2 separate regions of the Homo sapiens genome follow, and region 2 is linked to region 1. Evidence: fine-mapped expression QTL. A gene starts in region 1. The other region holds a variant in brackets. All regions are shown on one strand. Distances are from middle to middle. Region 1 holds the start of UPP1 (uridine phosphorylase 1). Region 2 overlaps C7orf57 (chromosome 7 open reading frame 57).

What was found. PIP is the estimated chance that this variant, and not a neighbour inherited with it, causes the effect. A credible set is the group of variants that fine-mapping cannot tell apart.
Region 2: its variant is the best candidate, but not a certain one, in a credible set for the expression of UPP1 in whole blood (INTERVAL, PIP 0.58).

What each region holds. Positions count from the first base shown.
Region 1 is chr7:48,086,516-48,090,899 of GRCh38, reverse strand. It overlaps UPP1 (uridine phosphorylase 1), which reads right to left and starts at 1,635. Exons shown (of 9, transcript NM_003364.4): 1 at 1,482-1,635; 2 at 536-712. RefSeq lists silencers at 1,071-1,260, 1,601-1,940 and enhancers at 1,041-1,570, 2,081-2,290, 2,103-2,632.
Region 2 is chr7:48,045,678-48,050,061 of GRCh38, reverse strand. It overlaps C7orf57 (chromosome 7 open reading frame 57), which reads right to left. Exons shown (of 9, transcript NM_001100159.3): 5 at 3,446-3,602; 6 at 85-182. Among named protein-coding and RNA genes, the nearest start is that of C7orf57, 12 kb to the right of the region's middle. RefSeq lists enhancers at 1-369, 505-1,704. The variant A/G (reference allele first, on the strand shown) is at 1,632.

The DNA of each region.
Region 1 (4,384 bases):
GAAAGTATTGGAACCAAGAATATAATTTGTGCTCGATACACCTGTGCTGAATTAAAACGGTCTGCGGTGATGAGGTTTAATGCAGAGGACTAGAAGGTCAGGGTAGCCTCTGAAAAAAGAAATAATGTAAGAGCAGCTGAGAAATGGGGAAAGCTTGGGCCAAAATGCAGATGGGCAAACAAACTGAAAGGCGGGAGAGACAAAGGCCTGCCCTGGGAATGGCTCAGCAGCGCTTGTAGAAATCCAGAGTAAGACATTCTTTCTATTCAAGGAAGTCACAAAGTTTTTTAAAGACCCGCGGTTACAGCCAATGAATGGAACCAATGGTCTTTTTAACCAGAAGACCCCAGGAAGGCAGAAAATGAGCCAAAGAAAGGCCAGGCAGGGGACAGTGGGGAAAGGAAACAGGGATGGAGAAGCAGAGAGGGAAGTGCAGAGACAGGTCACCCAGGCGCCTGGAAACTGCCTCTATGGCCTTCACGGGAAACGGCCTCTTTCTACTCCGGATCCCAGACTGTGTTTCTTTGAAACTGACCGTCAGAGGAGAGCGGCTGGAGGCGGACAGACGTCTGCAGTGGGAGGCGCTCCAGGCGTTCCAGGCAGTGTCCTGCCGGCGAGTCACCCGCGACCGCGAGTCACCTCACCAAGCCCTGAATTGGGACAGGAGACGAGACGTGTCGACGAGCTGCGGAGTTCCTCGCTTCTCTGGGCCCTGCCAGGTCCAAGAACAGGTTGCCATATAAAAGAATCGTGAAGGGACCCCCTTCCCCATGCAAATTATGTCATATAACGCATATGCCTGTGAAGTTTCTCTGCGGAGCTGCCAGATAACTCGATGACAATATTTTATGCGGTAACATTTTGTTAAATGTTGACTCGATGGCCACTTGACGCCATCTGAACTCTGAAAGCTCGCGTAACAATCATCCTCCAAATGAAATTTTACCCCCTTCTCCCTTTAAAAGGCGGTGGGGACAAAACATCACTTCGTCACTTAAGTCACCATCTCCTTCCTCTTATCTGGGGCTCCCAGCATAGTTCTAGGGGTTCCCGCACTCCCCGCCCGGGTTTGGGCTGCGAGAAGCGCCCGCCTGCGCCCTGCGGGACCTGACCCTGCCGGCTCTGGCTTCACCCTCGCTGCGCCTCGGCCCGGTGGGCTCCCCGCCCAGAGCCCCGCGCGCTCCGTCGCCGGGACGTGGGAGAGGTAGGCACGGGGTGGACCCGAGGAAGCACATCCCGCCCGCGCGCTTCCCCCACGCCCACCTCGCTCCGCACACACCAGCCCCAGAACCTCCCGGCCGCGCGCCCGCCTCCCCGCGCAGCCGCGCCGGGCCGCTCTCTGCTCCTCTGCAGCTCACAGCCAAGGTGCACCAGAGCCTCCGTCACCGCCCCTACAGGTAAATGGGCACGTGGCCAAGGCAGGGGACGGGCTAGACCCCTGGGAAGAGAGAACGGCGGGAGCCGGGCCGCGGGCGACTCACCACTCGGCCTGCGCAGAGAGCCGCTACACCCGCGGCGCCATCCTCGCACTGCGACACCGGCGACAAACGCAATGCTCCAGGGCCGGACGAAGGGACGGCTCTCGGGAGGCTCGCAGACGGCGGGGCGCGGGTCTGTGCGCCGGAGCACTCGAATGAGGGAACCACCTGCGAGGTGAATCTCATATGGAGTCTGCGAGCGGCCCCGCCCTGCCCGGGGGTTACCGCTAGGCTCGGGCCCCGCCTGCCCTGGGCCGGCGAACTCAGCTGACCGCATCCTGGGCCATCCCGCAGACAAGCCCCGCCCGCCCCCACCTTCCTCTGCCCCTCTGGCCCCGCCTCCCCCGCCTTCCTCCTCTCCACCCTCCCGCGAAGGTCCCGGGAGGCTCAGCCCGCAATTGCTTCTCGCCTCTGCAGAGCAGCTGGGCAATTGTAAAGAACCAGCAGCCAGTTCTGTTACTCATTAAACAGCCCCTACTACAGAGGAAATCTTCTTACCCACGTGGTCCTAACCTGGGGCGGAGGAAACCGGGCTAGAAGCGGCTCTAGGACTAACCCAAGGTCACGCCGCCAGGCAGGATCCCCGGTCTGTCTGTCTGGCGGTGGCCCCGCGGCTGGGGCCAGCGGAGAGAAATGACAGCGTGGAACCAGCCCTGGCCCGGTGGTCGGGAATGTGGAGCTGGCACTGTCACTGTGTGTACCCTGGATCTCTCTGGACGGCCTCGGCTTCCCCCCTGGGGAGTTTCTCTGGGACCTTCCTGATCCTGGGAGTTCCCGCTTGCTGGGGCAAAGCCAGGAGCTCGCCCGAGGAGGGGAAGTGACTCATTCACTTCGAGTCGCAGCTAAGTGGCCGAACTGCCTCAAACCGGCGCTGCACTCTGACCCCCAGGGGCCGGACCTGCCTGCCCCCGGCCGGTGCCCACTCTCCGTCTCAGGCGTCTTTCCTGGTCCTCTCCCTGCTTCCCGAACGCGCACTCTGGTGAGAGCACAGAGCCTGGGAAAGAAGACGACCTAGAGGCCCGGGCAGCCCAGCACCTCTGTTACTTGCTTCCTAAAGGGAACTCCAGTTCCTGAGAAAACATGGGGTTGGGCCGGGAGTGGTGGCTCACGCCTGTAATCCCAGCACTTTGGAAGGCCGAGGCGGATGGATCACCTGAGGTCAGGAGTTCGAGACCAGCCTGCCCAACATGGTGAAACCCCGTCACTACTAAAAATACAAAAAATTAGCTGGACGTGGTGTCGCGTGCCTGTAATCCCAGGTACTAGGCAGGCCGAGGCAGGAGAATTGCTTGAACCCAGCGAAGGATGCAGTGAGCCGAGATCGCGCCATTGCACTCCATACTGGGTGACAAGAGTGAAACACACAAACAAATCAAGGAAGGAATTAAGGGTTTTATTGAAAATGAAAGTACGGCCAGGCGCAGTGGCTCACACCTGTAATCCCAGCACTTTGGGAGGCCGAGGCGGGTGGATTACAAAGTCAGGAGTTCAAGACCAGCCTAACCAAGATGGTGAAACCCCGTCTCTACTAAAAGTAAAAAAAAAAAAAAAACAAAAAAAAAAACCTAGCCGGTCACAGTGGCAGGTGCCTGTAATTCCAGCTACTTGGGAGGCTGAGGCAGGAGAACCACTTGAACCTGGGTGGCAGAGGTTGCAGTGAGCTGAGATCATGCCACTGCATTCCAGCCTTGGTGACACAGTGAGACGCCATCTCAAAAAAAAAAGGTAAATGAAAGTACACTCCACAGTGTGGGAGCGGGCCTGAGCGTAGGGGCTCAAAGGCCCCATTCCAGAATTTTGGGGAGTTTCAATGTCCTCCGCTTGGGGCACACACTATGTAAATGAAAGGGATGATGCAAAGTTACAAAGTCATTTACTTGGCCTACGCAGAGGCTATTTCCTGTCATAGCTAAAGTGTGAATCGGCCTTATGTTCCCTGCCTCCAGACCCTATTTTGCTGCCTCAGACTGAAGACTGAAACTGGCCTGGTTAGGAAGTTGCTATTCTCTCTCTCTGAAGGTAGATTAACAACTTAGTTTTAGTTTTGTTACCGGAAAAGGGTCCCAATCCAGACCCCAAGAGAATGTTCTTGGATCTTGTGCAAGAAAGAATTCGGGGCCAGGGTGAGTCCACAGAGTAAAGTGAAAGAAGCAAGCTTATTGAGAAAGTAAAGGAATAAAAGAATGGCAATTCCATGGGCAGGGCAGCCTCTAGGGCTGCTGGTTGGCTATTTTTATGGTTATTTCTTGATCATATACTAAATAAGGGTGGATTATTCATGAGTTTTCTAGGAATTCTTCCTTTTAGAACATATAGGGTAACTTCTAAATGTTGCCATGGTATTTATAAACTGTCATGGTGCTGGTAGGAGTGTCGTTTAGCATGAGAATGCATTGTAATTAGCGAATAATGAGCAATGAGGAAGACCAGAGGTAGTTTTCCTCACCTTGCTGGTTTTTGGCAGGTTTTGGCCAGTTTTGGCTGGCTTCTTTACTGCATCCTGTTTCATCAGCAAGGTCTTTGTAACCTGTATCTTGTGATACCACCTGCCAACCTTCTATTTCATCCTGTGACTAAGGATGCCTAACCTCCTGGGAATGCACTCCAGCAGATCTCAGCCTCATTTTACCCAGCTCCTATTCAAGATGAAGAGTCTCTGAGTCGACTCCTGCTGACATATTTCCTGACTCTACAACCCTTAGGATTAAGGGTTCCCTTGTAAAAGGGAAGGGGGAATAACCAAATAACTCACCCCTTTCTTGGAAAACTCAGGAATAATCCACCCCTTGCTTAGCACATATTCAAGAGTAATCATAAAAAATACCCACCAGCAGCCCTTGGGGATGCTCTGCCTATGGAGTAGCCACTCTTTTATTCCCTTCCTTTCTTAATAAACTTCCTTTTAC
Region 2 (4,384 bases), 41 kb after region 1:
ACTAGCGCAGTCATCACCGGATGAAAGACGGAAGGCCAAACCCAAACCCAGTCCAGACAGTGAGGGCGTAGCTCAAGCACTTACACGGGGGGGAAGGAGAGTCTACTTCCTGCAGGATTCTTAGGGCCAAGTGGGGTGCCTGCTTTGCTCAGATACTTTGAGTCAATGGCCGGTAGCCTCAGCTGTGTGAGGAAACACACAAAACCTTGAGTTAGTGGAAAGCATTCAACAGCTAGAGAAGAAAACTCACTAATGGTAGCAAAGATACAAAGCTTATAGGCTGGACTTTCAATGTGGTCATTGTAAATGCTCACAATAAAATATAATTCAGCAATAATCTCATTCAACAAAATAGTTATGTAAAAGGGACTATCACTAACTCAAAAGCAGTTGCTATATTTGAGTAAAGATGCCATCTGCTCAGGAGGAAAAACAATGAACTAAGAGCCTCGTCCTGAAGGAACTTCCCACACCCAGATGAAAACATATGTTCACAAAAGCACCTGTACGCTTTTGTAATAATCACCCAGAACTGGAAACAACCCAGATGTCCACCAACAAACGAATGGATAAACAAATTGTATCATGATCAGCCAATGAAACTCAGCAACAGAAACAAATGAACTACTGACACTCAGAACAGCATGGCCATGCGTATGTAATGTAGATGCATAATGTAAATGCATTACACCACATGGGAGAAGCCAAGCAGGAAAGACGCCATGCCGTATGATTCCATTGATTTCACATTCTGGAAAAGGAAGTGTAAGAATTAAAGAAAGAGGAAAGAAACACGAAATGCGGCGTGGCAGTCAAAGACAGGTTTTCTTTAGTTAAAACCTGAGAGGCACTCCTGGCTGATTGTGGTCAGGAGCACTTTCTCTTACAGACTAAAAGTATATATCAGTTTTGGGGTGAGGGGGCTTATCAGAAGCTTGGAATGTTTATGTGTGTGGAGAAGTTCATGGCTGGGTTGGAATCTCTCTGGGAGGAGGGGAGGTTATCTTGGTGCAGACATCTTTCAGCCCGGAGGGGGGTTAACTCGGGCCTGGCATCTTCCTGGCTGGAGAGAGCTTATTTAGGGGCTACCATGTCTCTGGTCAGGGAGGAGTTTGGAATGTTTCTGGTTGGAGATGTTACCTATGGTTCATGGTCGTGTTGACCTTAGCCATTAGGCTGATGCCCCTTGGATTTAGGCGGTTTTTTTTAAGGTGAACTTTTAGAATGAGAGGCTTGTCCAAGATGGCGATGTTCCTGCACTGTCCAGAAGAACTATAAAGACTGAAAACAGATCAGGGCTTGCAAGGGGCAGGGGAGAGGCTGACTATAAAGAGGGGTAGAAATGCTGGGGGCAACAGAACTGCTATATGTTCCTTGACAGCTGTGGTGGTACACAAGGGACGCCTTAGTCAAAACCTGGGGAGCAGTTCTCTATAAAAGGTGGGTTTCGCTCTACCTAAATTGTTTCTTATTAAAAGAAATAGAAATACATGCTATGGGAAAACGGGAAAAAACAAAACGAAGCAAACAAAATCCACGGAGGTATTGCTAACAATTATAGGAAGAAAAGATGGCTTTTCAAAAAAAAGAAACAAGATCCCCCGATCACCCTGTAGGTGAGCAAGACCCCC[A/G]TGAATGCTGGTAACCAACAGGCAATACATGTGCCCTAAGTCTTGTCAGGTGTCCACCATGTGTCCCGTGTGAGGCCAGGGCACAGCTGAGGAAGCGCTTTGTCAGCTGGCCCACGCCCATGATGTGATCATCACTCATAGGTGACCTTCATACCAAAGCGGTGATGGTGTTGTCTTATTAGGGAAATCAGAGCCCATCCCGATGCGGTGCTCATCCCCTGCACCTTACCCGACACCATGTCCCTCTACCTGTTAAATACTCAGCATGTGTGTCTTTAACCACCACCCCTTGTCATCCTATCTCCTTCCCCATAGTGAAGGGCTGGCTTCAGGAACTTTGTGTAGCCCCTAGCACACCTTTTGTAAATGGGTACTAACTTAAAAACCCCACTTGATTTGAGAGTGATACAGCATTTAGCATTTTAAGATTTCTGTAGAAATGAGCTGTAGCCACGGTTAATATCCAAAGGTTCATTTATCACTAGAGGTTGTAGCTCAGTGTAATTGGTCACTTGTGCAACACTAAGAGATAAATCTAATTCTTAACATGGTCCATTTTGGCTGAGTGTCTACGGTAGTATGCACCTGTAGACCTAGCTACTCGGGAGGCTGTGGCAGGAGGAGCCCTTGAGCCCAGGAGTTCGAGGGTGTAGTGAACTATGATAATGCCGCTGCACTCCAGCCTGGGTGACAGAGCGAGAACTTCTCTCTAATTAAAAAAATAAAATAAAAAACAAAAACAAAAAAACAACAATAAAAGGTCTAATGCCTTTGCACGGATCATGGAAACAACCCAAAATCTGAATCACAGCCGGACATGGAGATCTTAAAGAAAAAGCATGTGGCCCATTGCAGCCAGTTGACATTCCACTTGGTGTTCAGCTACTCAAGTCCCCAAAATAAACTGAGGGGTTTCCCTTCAAACCAAGATGCTAAGGCAACAGCCTAGGAATCAGGCATAAATAGTTCACAACAACTTCCACGTACGCTGAGACACATCCAGTCTCTTCATTGTTCAAAATGATCACCCATCAGGTGACAACGGTGTTCACTCTTATTCTCAGTATCAAACACTATTGTTATTTGTAATATGAACTTCACCGTTTCACTCACAAACCCTGAAGTTGCAAGAACTGAGACTAATCTGAGACCTGGTGCTGATGCCCCGGGCAACACTGAGCCCTTGGTGGAGCTGAAGGCCTGGCTCTTGTTCCTTCCAGCACCAAGGAAAGGGGATAGAAGGTCCTCCTGTCAAGACTTCCCAACAACAGAGCTGGCAATTCAAGATTGCTTCCAACTTTCTCCATTGCATTCTTAAAATACACATCCTCTGAGAAGGCTTCACTGCACAGCCAGTCACTCCTTTGTGATCAAATACACCACCAGGACTTCATACAGAAGAGAATTCATCTTCTCTTCCTTTATTATCAACAAAGAGTGTCCCAGAAAACTCTTAATACTTAAATAAATGAAAATATTCAGAAATGGGATGACTAAATATAAAATTCCTTTTCTATATTGGCCTGATAAGAAGTGCTATGCCAGTTTTCCTCTAGATAAGCATTAACTATCTATAAATCATTTAGCAAAAAGAAATCTTACCTCTTAAAGTCATTATTCATAAAAAGAAAAAGAAAGACCATAGTATGGTGCCTGCTTGCCTTTTAGTAGATCCAAACTTAAAATACAGAGCACGTGGCCGATGCCACGAGCAACATAAGACGCCACCAGCAGCTAACATCACAGCACTTAATTACTCGAGACCACAGAAGCAAAGCGGATGCGGATGCCGTCTATTTATGGGCTCCCGTCACCTTTTTTTTCTCCTTTTCAAGTTCCTCAGCCTCTCTTTGCCAAACTGTTTTCATGTCGAAGTCGAAGGGCCCTCTTCTGGATGCATAGCTACCATTGGCTTGATCGGGGTTAAATTCTTCATGAACCATGTAATCCGGCATGGAGACAGCCCGCACTCTGCAAGGACAGACACCAGTTACAGCCTGGTGCTCAGAGCCATTTCCACTCCCTCCCTTCCTTCCATCTCCATCGCTGGCTCTCCCTTTCCCTCCCTCCTTCTGTCTCCCTCCTTCTCTCACTGTCTCCCTCCTTTCCTTTCTCCTCTCTCTCTCCCTCTCTCTCCCTCTCCTGCTCTCTCTCTTTCTCTCTTTTCCTCTTCCTCTTCTTTCCCTCTCTTTCTCTTTCTCTCCCTCCCTTATTCTCTTCTCTTCCGTCTCTCTTGACATCAGCACTACCCATTCTCCTTGAAAACACAGACGGGCCCTTCCCTCCTGTGCCTGCTAAACAACACACCAACCCCTCCAGGCCCTGCGTCCCAGGATCAGGAGGCCCACTTAGAAATCACAAGGTCTCAACGTTAGTAAAACGAGATATACTAAAATATGAATTTATAAAACGTACCTTATAAAATAATTATTTCTTTTAGGATAGCATCTACCACTTTGACCCCTTAAAATAGCTAAACACCCCTAAACATTTACCATTTAACATGTTCATTTAAAATAATAATAACATGCTCTGTTTCCTGTTGGATGGTCATTTTTAATGTGAGTATTTAAACTAGCAACCAGTCTTCCCATATAGGCAGCGCACACAGGAGGGGCATCCAAAGGCACTAGAATGCTTCAGCCTTCAGATCCCTGAAGGTACCATCTGTACACATAACCAGGTTTGAACAGGGAAGAACACTGGATTCAAGTTTGACACGGCAACACAAACCCCCCATGCAGTGTCTGAGG